Linked DNA regions of Homo sapiens: region 1 is linked to region 2. Evidence: fine-mapped expression QTL. A gene starts in region 2. The other region holds a variant in brackets. All regions are shown on one strand. Distances are between the middles of the regions. Region 1 has its middle 32 kb from the start of TMEM236. Region 2 holds the start of TMEM236 (transmembrane protein 236).

Evidence for each region. PIP is the estimated chance that this variant, and not a neighbour inherited with it, causes the effect.
Region 1: its variant is fine-mapped to the expression of TMEM236 in regulatory T cells (Schmiedel 2018, PIP 0.91).

What each region holds. Positions count from the first base shown.
Region 1 is chr10:17,717,811-17,723,042 of GRCh38, reverse strand. No RefSeq gene overlaps it. Among named protein-coding and RNA genes, the nearest start is that of TMEM236, 32 kb to the left of the region's middle. The variant A/C (reference allele first, on the strand shown) is at 2,597.
Region 2 is chr10:17,749,825-17,755,056 of GRCh38, reverse strand. TMEM236 (transmembrane protein 236) reads right to left here and starts at 2,856. Exons shown (of 4, transcript NM_001098844.3): 1 at 2,505-2,856. The coding sequence starts at 2,761.

The DNA.
Region 1 (5,232 bases), 32 kb after region 2:
GAAGCTCTTTAGTTGAATTAGATCCCATTTGTCAATTTTGGCTTTTGTTGCCATTGCTTTTGGCTGGAGAGGCAGCCAAGATGGCCAAATACGAACAGCTCTGGTCTACAGCTCCCAGCGTGAGCGACGCAGAAGATGGGTGATTTCTGCATTTCCATCTGAGGTACTGGGTTCATCTCACTAGGGAGTGCCAGACAGTGGGCGCAGGACAGTGGGTGCAGCGCACCGAGCGCGAGCTGAAGCAGGGCGAGGCATTGCCTCACTCAGGAAGTGCAAGGGGTCAGGGAGTTCCCTTTCCTAGTCAAAGAAAGGGGTGACAGACGGCACCTGGAAAATCGGGTCACTCCCACCCTAATACTGCGCTTTCCTGACGGGCTTAAAAAACGGCACACCAGGAGATTATATCCCGCACGTGGCTCAGAGGGTCCAACACCCACAGAGTCTCGTTGACTGCTAGCACAGCAGTCTGAGATCAAACTGCAAGGCAGCAGCAAGGCTGGGGGAGGGGCGCCTGCCATTGCCCGGGCTTGCTTAGGTAAACAAAGCAGGCGGGAAACTCGAACCGGGTGGAGACCACCACAGCTCAAAGAGGCCTGCCTGCCTCCGTAGGCTCCACCTCTGGGGGCAGGGCACAGACAAACAAAAAGACAGCAGTAACCTCTGCAGACTTAAATGTCCCTGTCTGACAGCTTTGAAGAGAGCAGTGGTTCTCCCAGCACGCAGCTGGAGATCTGAGAACAGGCAGACTGCCTCCTCAAGTGGGTCCCTGACCCCTGACCCCTGACCCCCGAGCAGCCTAACTGGGAGGCACCCCCCCAGTAGGGGCAGACTGACAACTCACACGGCCGGGTACTCCTCTGAGACAAAACTTCCAGAGGAACGATCAGACAGCAGCATTCGCGGTTCATGAAAATCTGCTCTTCTGCAGCCACCGCTGCTGATACACAGGGAAACAGGGTCTGGAGTGGACCTCTAGCAAACTCCAACAGACCTGCGCTGAGGGTCCTCTCTGTTAGAAGGAAAACTAACAAACAGAAAGGACATCCACACCAAAAACCCATCTGTACATCACCATCATCAAAGACCAAAAGTAGATAAAACCACAAAGATGGCGAAAAAACAGAGCAGAAAAACTGGAAACTCTAAAAAGCAGAGCACCTCTCCTCCTCCAAAGGAACGCAGTTCCTCACCAGCAACGGAACAAAGCTGGATAGAGAATGACTTTGACGAGGTGAGAGAAGAAGGCTTCAGACGATCAAACTACTCCGAGCTACAGGAGGAAATTCAAACCAAAGGCAAAGAAGTTAAAAACTATGAAAAAAATTCAGATGAATGTATAACTAGAATAACCAATACAGAGGAGTGCTTAAAGGAGCTGATGGAGCTGAAAGCCAAGGCTCGAGAACTACGTGAAGAATGCAGAAGCCTCAGGAGCCGATGCGATCAACTGGAAGAAAGGGTATCAGTGATGGAAGATGAAATGAATGAAATGAAGCGAGAAGGGAAGTTTAGAGAAAAAAGAATAAAAAGAAATGAACAAAGCCTCCAAGAAATATGGGACTATGTGAAAAGACCAAATCTACGTCTGATTGGTGTACCTGAAAGTGACGGGGAGAATGGAACCAAGTTGGAAAACACTCTGCAGGATATTATCCAGGAGAACTTCCCCAATCTAGCAAGGCAGGCCAACATTCAGATTCAGGAAATACAGAGAATGCCACAAAGATACTCCTCGAGAAGAGCAACTCCAAGACACATAATTGTCAGATTCACCAGAGTTGAAATGAAGGAAAAAACGTTAAGGGCAGCCAGAGACAAAGGTCGGGTTACCCACAAAGGGGAAGCCCATCAGACTAACAGCAGCTCTCTCAGCAGAAACTCTACAAGCCAGAAGAGAGTGGGGGCCAATATTCAACATTCTTAAAGAAAAGAATTTTCAACCCAGAATTTCATATCCAGCCAAACTAAGCTTCATAAGTGAAGGAGAAATAAAATACTGTACAGACAAGCAAATGCTGGGAGATTTTGTCACCACCAGGCCTGCCCTAAAAGAGCTCCTGAAGGAAGCGCTAAACATGGAAAGGAAAAACCGGTACCAGCCGCTGCAAAATCATGCCAAAATGTAAAGACCATCGAGGCTAGGAAGAAACTGCATCAACTAACGAGCAAAATAACCAGCTAACATCATAATGACATGATCAAATTCACACATAACAATATTAACTTTAAATGTACATGGACTAAATGCTCCAATTAAAAGACACAGACTGGCAAATTGGATAAAGAGTCAAGACCCATCAGTGTGCTGTATTCAGGAAACCCATCTCACGTGCAGAGACACACATAGGCTCAAAATAAAAGGATGGAGGAAGATCTACCAAGCAAATGGAAAACAAAAAAAGGCAGGGGTTGCAATCCTAGTCTCTGATAAAACAGACTTTCAACCAACAAAGATCAAAAGAGACAAAGAAGGCCATTACATAATGGTAAAGGGATCAATTCAACAAGAAGAGCTAACTATCCTAAATATATATGCACCCAATACAGGAGCACCCAGATTCATAAAGCAAGTCCTGAGTGACCTACAAAGAGACTT[A/C]GACTCCCACACATTAATAATGGGAGACTTTAACACCCCACTGTCAACATTAGACAGATCAACGAGACAGAAAGTTAACAAGGATAACCAGGAATTGAACTCAGCTCTGCACCAAGCGGACCTAATAGACATCTACAGAACCCTCCACCCCAAATCAACAGAATATACATTTTTTTCAGCACCACACCAAACCTATTCCAAAATTGACCACATACTTGGAAGTAAAGCTCTCCTCGCCAAATGTAAAAGAACAGAAATTATAACAAACTGTCTCTCAGACCACGGTGCAATCAAACTAGAACTCAGGATTAAGAAACTCACTCAAAACCGCTCAACTACATAGAAACTGAACAACCTGCTCCTGAATGACTACTGGGTACATAACGAAATGAAGGCAGAAATAAAGATGTTCTTTGGAACCAACGAGAACAAAGACACAACGTACCAGAATCTCTGGGACACATTCAAACCAGTGTGTAGAGGGAAATTGATAGCACTAAAAGCCCACAAGAGAAAGCAGGAAAGATCCAAAATTGACACCCTAACATCACAATTAAAAGAACTAGAAAAGCAAGAGCAAACACATTCAAAAGCTAGCAGAAGGCAAGAAATAACTAAAATCAGAGGAGAACTCAAGGAAATAGAGACACAAAAAACCCTTCAAAAAATTAATGAATCTAGGAGCTGGTTTTTTGAATGGATCAACCAAATTGATAGACCACTAGCAAGACTAATAAAGAAGGAAAGAGAGAAGAATCAAATAGATGCAATAAAAAATGATAAAGGGGATATCACCACCAATCCCACAGAAATACAAACTACCATCAGAGAATACTACAAACACCTCTACGCAAATAAACTAGAAAATCTAGAAGAAATGGATAAATTCCTCAACACATACACCCTCCCAAGACTAAACCAGGAAGAAGTTGAATCTCTGAATAAACCAGTAACAGGCTCTGAAATTCTGGCAATAATCAATAGCTTACCAACCAAAAAGAGTCCAGGACCAGATGGATTCACAGCCGAATTCTACCCGAGGTACAAGGAGAAACTGGTACCATTCCTTCTGAAACTACTCCAATCAATAGAAAAAGAGGAAATCCTCCCTAACTCATTTTATGAGGCCAGCATCATCCTGATACCAAAGACTGGCAGAGACACAACCAAAAAAAGAGAATTTTAGACCAATATCCTTGATGAACATTAATGCAAAAATCCTCAATAAAATACTGGCAAACCGAATCCGGCAGCACATCAAAAAGCTTATCCACCATGATCAAGTGGGCTTCATCCCTGGGATGCAAGGCTGGTTCAATATATGCAAATCAATAAATGTAATCCAGCATATAAACAGAACCAAAGACAAAAACCACATGATTATCTCAATAGATGCAGAAAAGGCCTTTGACAAAATTCAACAACCCTTCATGCTAAAAACTCTCAATAAATTAGGTATCGATGGGAAGTATCTCAAAATAATAAGAGCTATCTATGACAAACCCACAGCTAATATCATACTGAATGGGCAAAAACTGGAAGCATTCCCTTTGAAAACAGGCACAAGACAGGGATGCCCTCTCTCATCACTCCTATTCAACATAGTGTTGGAAGTTCTGGCCAGAGCAATTAGGCAGGAGAAGGAAATAAAGGGTATTCAATTAGGAAAAGAAGAAGTCAAATTGTCCCTGTTTGCAGATGGCATGATTGTATATCTAGAAAACCCCATTGTCTCAGCCCAAAATCTCCTTAAGCTGATAAGCAACTTCAGCAAAGTCTCAGGATACAAAATCAGTGTACAAAAATTACAAGCATTCTTATACACCAATAACAGACAAACGGAGAGCCAAATCATGAGTGAACTCCCATTCACAATTGCTTCAAAGAGAATAAAATACCTAGGAATCCAACTTACAAGGGATGTGAAGGACCTCTTCAAGGAGAACTACAAACCACTGCTCAAGGAAATAAAAGAGGATACAAAGAAATGGAAGAACATTCCAAGCTCATGGGTAGGAAGAATCAATATCGTGAAAATGGCCATACTGCCCAAGGTAATTTATAGATTCAATGCCATCCCCATCAAGCTACCAATGACTTTCTTCACAGAATTGGAAAAAACTACTTTAAAGTTTATATGGAACCAAAAAAGAGCCCGCATCGCCAAGTCAATACTAAGCCAAAAGAACAAAGCTGGAGGCATCACGCTACCTGACTTCAAACTATACTACAAGGCTACAGTAACCAAAGCAGCATGGTACTGGTACCAAAACAGAGATACAGATCAATGGAACAGAACAGAGCCCCCAGAAATAATGTCGCATATCTACAACTATCTGATCTTTGACAAACCTGAGAAAAACAAGCAATGGGGAAAGGATTCCCTATTTAATAAATGGTGCCGGGAAAACTGGCTAGCCATATGTAGAAAGCTGAAACTGGATCCCTTCCTTATACCTTATACAAAAATTAATTCAAGATGGATTAAAGACTTAAACGTTAGACCTAAAACCATAAGAACCTTAGAAGAAAACCTAGGCATTACCATTCAGGACACAGGCATGGGCAATTTCCATAATTTTTATAGTTGCATAGTTTATCGTGTAGGGTGCTAATTTGTCTCACATCAACTTGAA
Region 2 (5,232 bases):
TGAGGCAGGATAATTGCTTGAACCCAGGAGGCGGAAGTTGCAGTGAGCTGAGATCGTGCCACTGCACTCCAGCCTGGACAATAAGAGTGAAACTCTGTCTCAAATAAATAAATAAATAAATAAATAAATAAAACATCAGTATGAAAGAAAAATTAGCTTATATTAACTTATTAAAGAAAAGAGAGAAGTCCAAGATGAGTAAGAATCAGATCTGAAGATCTAAAAGGAAAAATACATTAATATCAGAGACTATTTGTTCTCAATACCCTTATGTGGATCAGTATACCCATTAGCTAAACTGCTAGTTAAATTAACATTAAATCCTGATTTATTTAAAATATCTCTGTATTGTTATTGAAGTACTTTCCTCCCCTACAAGGGTAACAGAATTTACCAACACAGTAAATTATTTATTTTTAAAGTCTAAGTAGGCCAGCTTTGGCAGCTCACGCCTGTAATCTCAGCACTTTGGGAGGCCAAGACGGGTGGATTGTTTGAGCCCAGGAGTTTGGAACCAGCCTGAGCAATGTGGCAAAACCTCATCTTTATAAAAAACACAAAAAAAGTAGCCGGGTGTGGTGGTGTGCACCTGTAGTCCCAGCTACTCAGGAGGTCGAGGTAGGAGGATCACCTGAGCCCCCTGGGGAGGTTGAGGCTGCTGTGAGCAATGATCACGCCACTGCACTCCAACCTGGGCAACAGAGCCACACCCAGTCTCAAAATAAAAAATAAGTAAATAAAAAGTCTAAAGGAACCAGTTGTTTTAAAAGTCGTAGTTAATGGTCAAAGTATGACGTAAGCCTGCAAAATGCAATGTAAATAATTAAAAATAGACATTACTTTCAGTTTTACGCAAAATTAAAATTCTACATTACCATCTTCTGATTATGAGTTGTGTAAGCTCACTCCGATAAGTTTATGTAATTTAGTGTCCAGGAGAATTAAGTCCAACATTTACTACTTAGAATAGCATGAACTGGCACAAACTCCAGTCTTACTAACCCATCTCATGTGTTATTATCACTCAGTATAAATGACTGTAGAAAAATTAAGGAAGATACCATAATATCCATACATTCACAGAAGCAGTAATTGTAGCCTCCCATTAATGTCACATTCTATCCTTACGCTCTGCTCACATCCTTACCCACAGTATGTTAGAACATATCTTTCAGGAATACTTATACACTGTTAGTGGGAGTCTAAATTAGTTTAACCATTGTGGAAGACAGTGTGGTGATTCCTCAAAGACCTAAAGACAGAAATACCATTCGACTCAGCAATTTCAATACTGGGTATATACCCAAAGGAATATAAATCATTCTATTATACAGACACATGCACCCGTATGTTCGTTGCAGTACTATTCACAATGGCAAAGACAGGAAACCAACCTAAATGCCCATCAGTGATAGAATGGATAAAGAAAATGTGGCATATATACTTTATCGAATGCTATGCAATCATGAAAAAGAACAAGATCATGTCCTTTGCAGGGACATGGATGGAGCTGGAGGCCATTACTTTTAGCAAACTAACGCAGGAACAGAAAACCAAATCCCACATGTTCTCATTTATAAGTGGGAGCTAAATGATGAGAACACATGCACACACAGAGGGGAACAACACACACCGGGGCCTTCCAGAGGGTGAACGGTGGGAGGGAGAGGATCAGGAAAAACAACTAATAGGTACTAGGCTTAATACCTGGGTGATGAAATAATCTGTACGACAAATCCCCATGACACAAGTTAACCTATGTAACAAACCTGCACTTAAAAGTTAAAAGTCAAACAACAGACAAACAAACAAATATATCTTTGAAAGCATCACGGGGATTCCCTGCTAAGGAATTCTTTTACAGGCTGGGCGTGTTGGCTCACTCCTGTAATCCTAGCACTTTGGGAGGCCAAGATGGGTGGATCATTTGAGGTCAGGAGCTCGGGACCAGCCTGGCTAACATGAAAACCCCGTCTCTACTAAAAGTACAAAACTTAGCTGGGCATGGTGGTGCATGCCGGTGAAATAATCTGTACAACAAACCCCTAATGACACAAGTTAACTTATGTAACAAACCTGCGCTTTTACCCCTGAACTTTAAAGTTAAAACAAACAACAAACAAAAAAACAAACAAACAAACGTATCTTTGACAGCATCATGGGGATTCCCTACTAAAGAATTCTTCTACAGGCCGGGCATTGTGGCTTCTGCCTGTAATCCTAGTACTTTGGGAGGCTGAGGCAGGCAGATCACTTGAGGTCAGGAGTTCAAGACTAGCCTGGCCAACATGGCAAAAACCCGTCTCTACTAAAAATGCAAAAATAAGCCAGGTGTGGTGGTGTGCGACTGTAATCCCAGCTACTCAGGAGGCTGAGGCAGGAGAATCACTTGAACCCAGGAGGCGGACGTTGCAGTGAGCCAAGACTGCCCTACTGCACTCCAGCCTGGGTGACAGAGCGAGACTCCAAATCAAAAAGAAAAAAAAGAAAATTCTTTTACTTACCATCCTTTAATTTTTCTGTAAATATAACGTTTCTTGTGCAGGATAACTTTTACAGGAACCCAGATCAGTAGAGTCACTAACGCAACATAGGCAATAGAACAGGAGATGATCAGCCAGTAGTGTGTGTTGTCAGATCTAGCCCTTGTTCCTTGGTAGGCGGTGGCAAACTGTTCTGTGATCACGAGTGTGGGGATGGAGAAAGCGGCAAACTCTAGGAGCTCAAAAACCACGAACTTAATGAGCCTTCCAGAAGCCATCCTGAGGAAAAGCAAGCTGCCAAGAACCTGGGACTCCCTCTTTGACTGTGGGCAGCATATGGACCCACAGACACTGAACTGGGATCAAGTTCCTTGTCCTCGAATCGCTAACCAGTGACTTTTTATTCTTTTATTGACCCTCATATGGTTCAATGATCTCCTAACTTAACAACCGTGGTCTCTTAAAGGAACAGGACCATTGTGGAAGTGATCACTCAACATATTTGCACATCCATTATTAGAAGTCAAATGAACTTTAGAGCATGCCCGGGAGCATGGGTAAAAGCAGGGTTTTAAAAAGGTGTTTATTGCTAACGTTAGCACAAAACCATTTGTGTGATAGTCAATTCTTGTTAAGTAAAACTGCTGGAATAATATAATTTTAGAGTTAAAGGGGAATAGATAGAATCCAACCCTCTATTTTTACATAAAAGCAAATTCAGGCAAAGGGAGATACTCAAACCTAAGTCTTCATCTTGGAAAACCATCCCTCCCTTTCAAGTGCTTGAAAAGGGAGTTTGTATTCACTTTATCAACTCTCTAACCAGGATTCTCCCTAATACTTAAGATATTTATTCATTATTGTGCATTAGTTGCCATATAACACAAATTAATGTTATTTTTGTTTTGCTGCACAGGAAACTGAAATGGTGACATTAGAAGCCTGTTATCAAGATTTACACATTAACAGCTATCTGTGACTAGCTCAAATGCATATCAAATGTTTAAAGAATGACAATTGTCTCCATGAATATCCTTCCTTTGAAAAACATACTTGAGACCGGGCATGGTGGCTCACACCTGTAATCCCAGCACTTTGGGAGGCTGAAGCGGGCAGATCACCTGAGGTCAGGAGTTCGAGACCAGCCTGGCCAACATGGTGAAACCTCGTCTCTACTAAAAAATACAAAAATTAAGGCCAGGCACGGTGGCCCACACCCGTAATCCCAGCACTTTGGGAGGCTGAAGCAGGCAGATCACCTGAGGTCAGGAGTTCAAGATCAGCCTGACCAACATGGTGAAACCCCATCTGCACAAAAAACGAAAAAAATACAAAATTAGACGGGTGTGGTGGTGCATGCCTGTAATCCCAGCTACTTGGGAGGCTGAGGCACGAGAATCGCTTGAATCTGGGAGGTGCGGAGGTTGCAGTGAACCGAGATTGCACCATTACAATCTAGCCTGGGCAACAAGAGCGAAACTCCGTCTCAAAAAAAAAAAAAAAAAGCAAAAATTAGAGGGGCGTGGTGGCACATGCCTGTAATCCAGCTACTTGGGAGGCTAAGGCAGAAGAATCACTTCAACCAAGGAGGCTGAGGTTGCAGTGAGCTGAGATCATGCCACTGCACTCCAGCCTAGGCAACAGAGCAAGACACCTTCTCAAAAAAAAAAAAAAAAAAAAGAAAAGAAAAACATACTAGAGCACTTACAATGAGCATTTTAGTATGTGTTAGGGTGTGAAGATGAATGAATGACAGCAGTTCCTGTTCTGAAAGTGCTTGAGGTCCAATGGAGGAGATAAAATGAGGAACCACAACAAAAAACCAAGGCCAGAAGAGTGTAAATGAAGTGCTACAGGGACACAGGTGAACTTCACCTTGCTTCACCTTGGGGTTGTGGGAAGAGGATGGGCACATAAGCACGGTCAGGATGGACGGGGGCACTGTGGTGTCGGTGACATTTCAGACACAGCCAAGGAGGCTGCAGGGGTTAGTGAAAATCTGGTGTGGCACAGCAGGAAACAGGAGGAGGCAATGTTAGAAAAATAGTTTGGGGGCCAGGTGGGGTGGCTCATACCTGTAACCCCAGCACTTTAGGAGGTCAAGGTGGGTTGATAGCTTGAGGAGGCCAGGAGTTTGAGACCAGCCTGGGCAACATGGTGAAACCTCTTCTTTACAAAAAATACAAAAATTAGCCAGGCACGGTGTCGCTTGCCTGTGGTCTCAGTTACTCCAGAGGCTGAGGTGGGAGGATTGCTTGAGCCTGGGAGGTTGAGGCTGCAGTGATCTGTGATCGTGCCACAGCACTCCAGCCTGAGCAACAGAGCGAGACCCTATCTCAAAACAACAACAACAAAATAGGTTGAGGTAAGAATGGCGTGTCCCATTAAGGATTTGGTGGGGGTGTGTAGCCGGCAGTGAAAAAGCAAGGTTTTCTGAACACAGCAGTCCTTTGGTCATCTGGAAAGGAGGTTCAATGCTGATGTGGAGGAAGGACAGAGCAGTGTTACCCTGGAGGCAGGAGTACAGCTGGGAACCAGAGAGGAGCCTGGGCTAGAGGTAAGAGCCCCCTGGCCAACACAAATGGAGCGGGAGTGATGAGGGAGGCGACGCAGCAGCAGACATTGAGCCCCGTCCCTTCTGTGGCTTTCCCTGTACCTGCTGTCACACTGATGCAGACCTGTATTTCTCTAGGCTTCTCTCTCTCAAGGCCCCCGGCAGAAGGGGCCCTGCGCTGCTGGACTTCCAGGG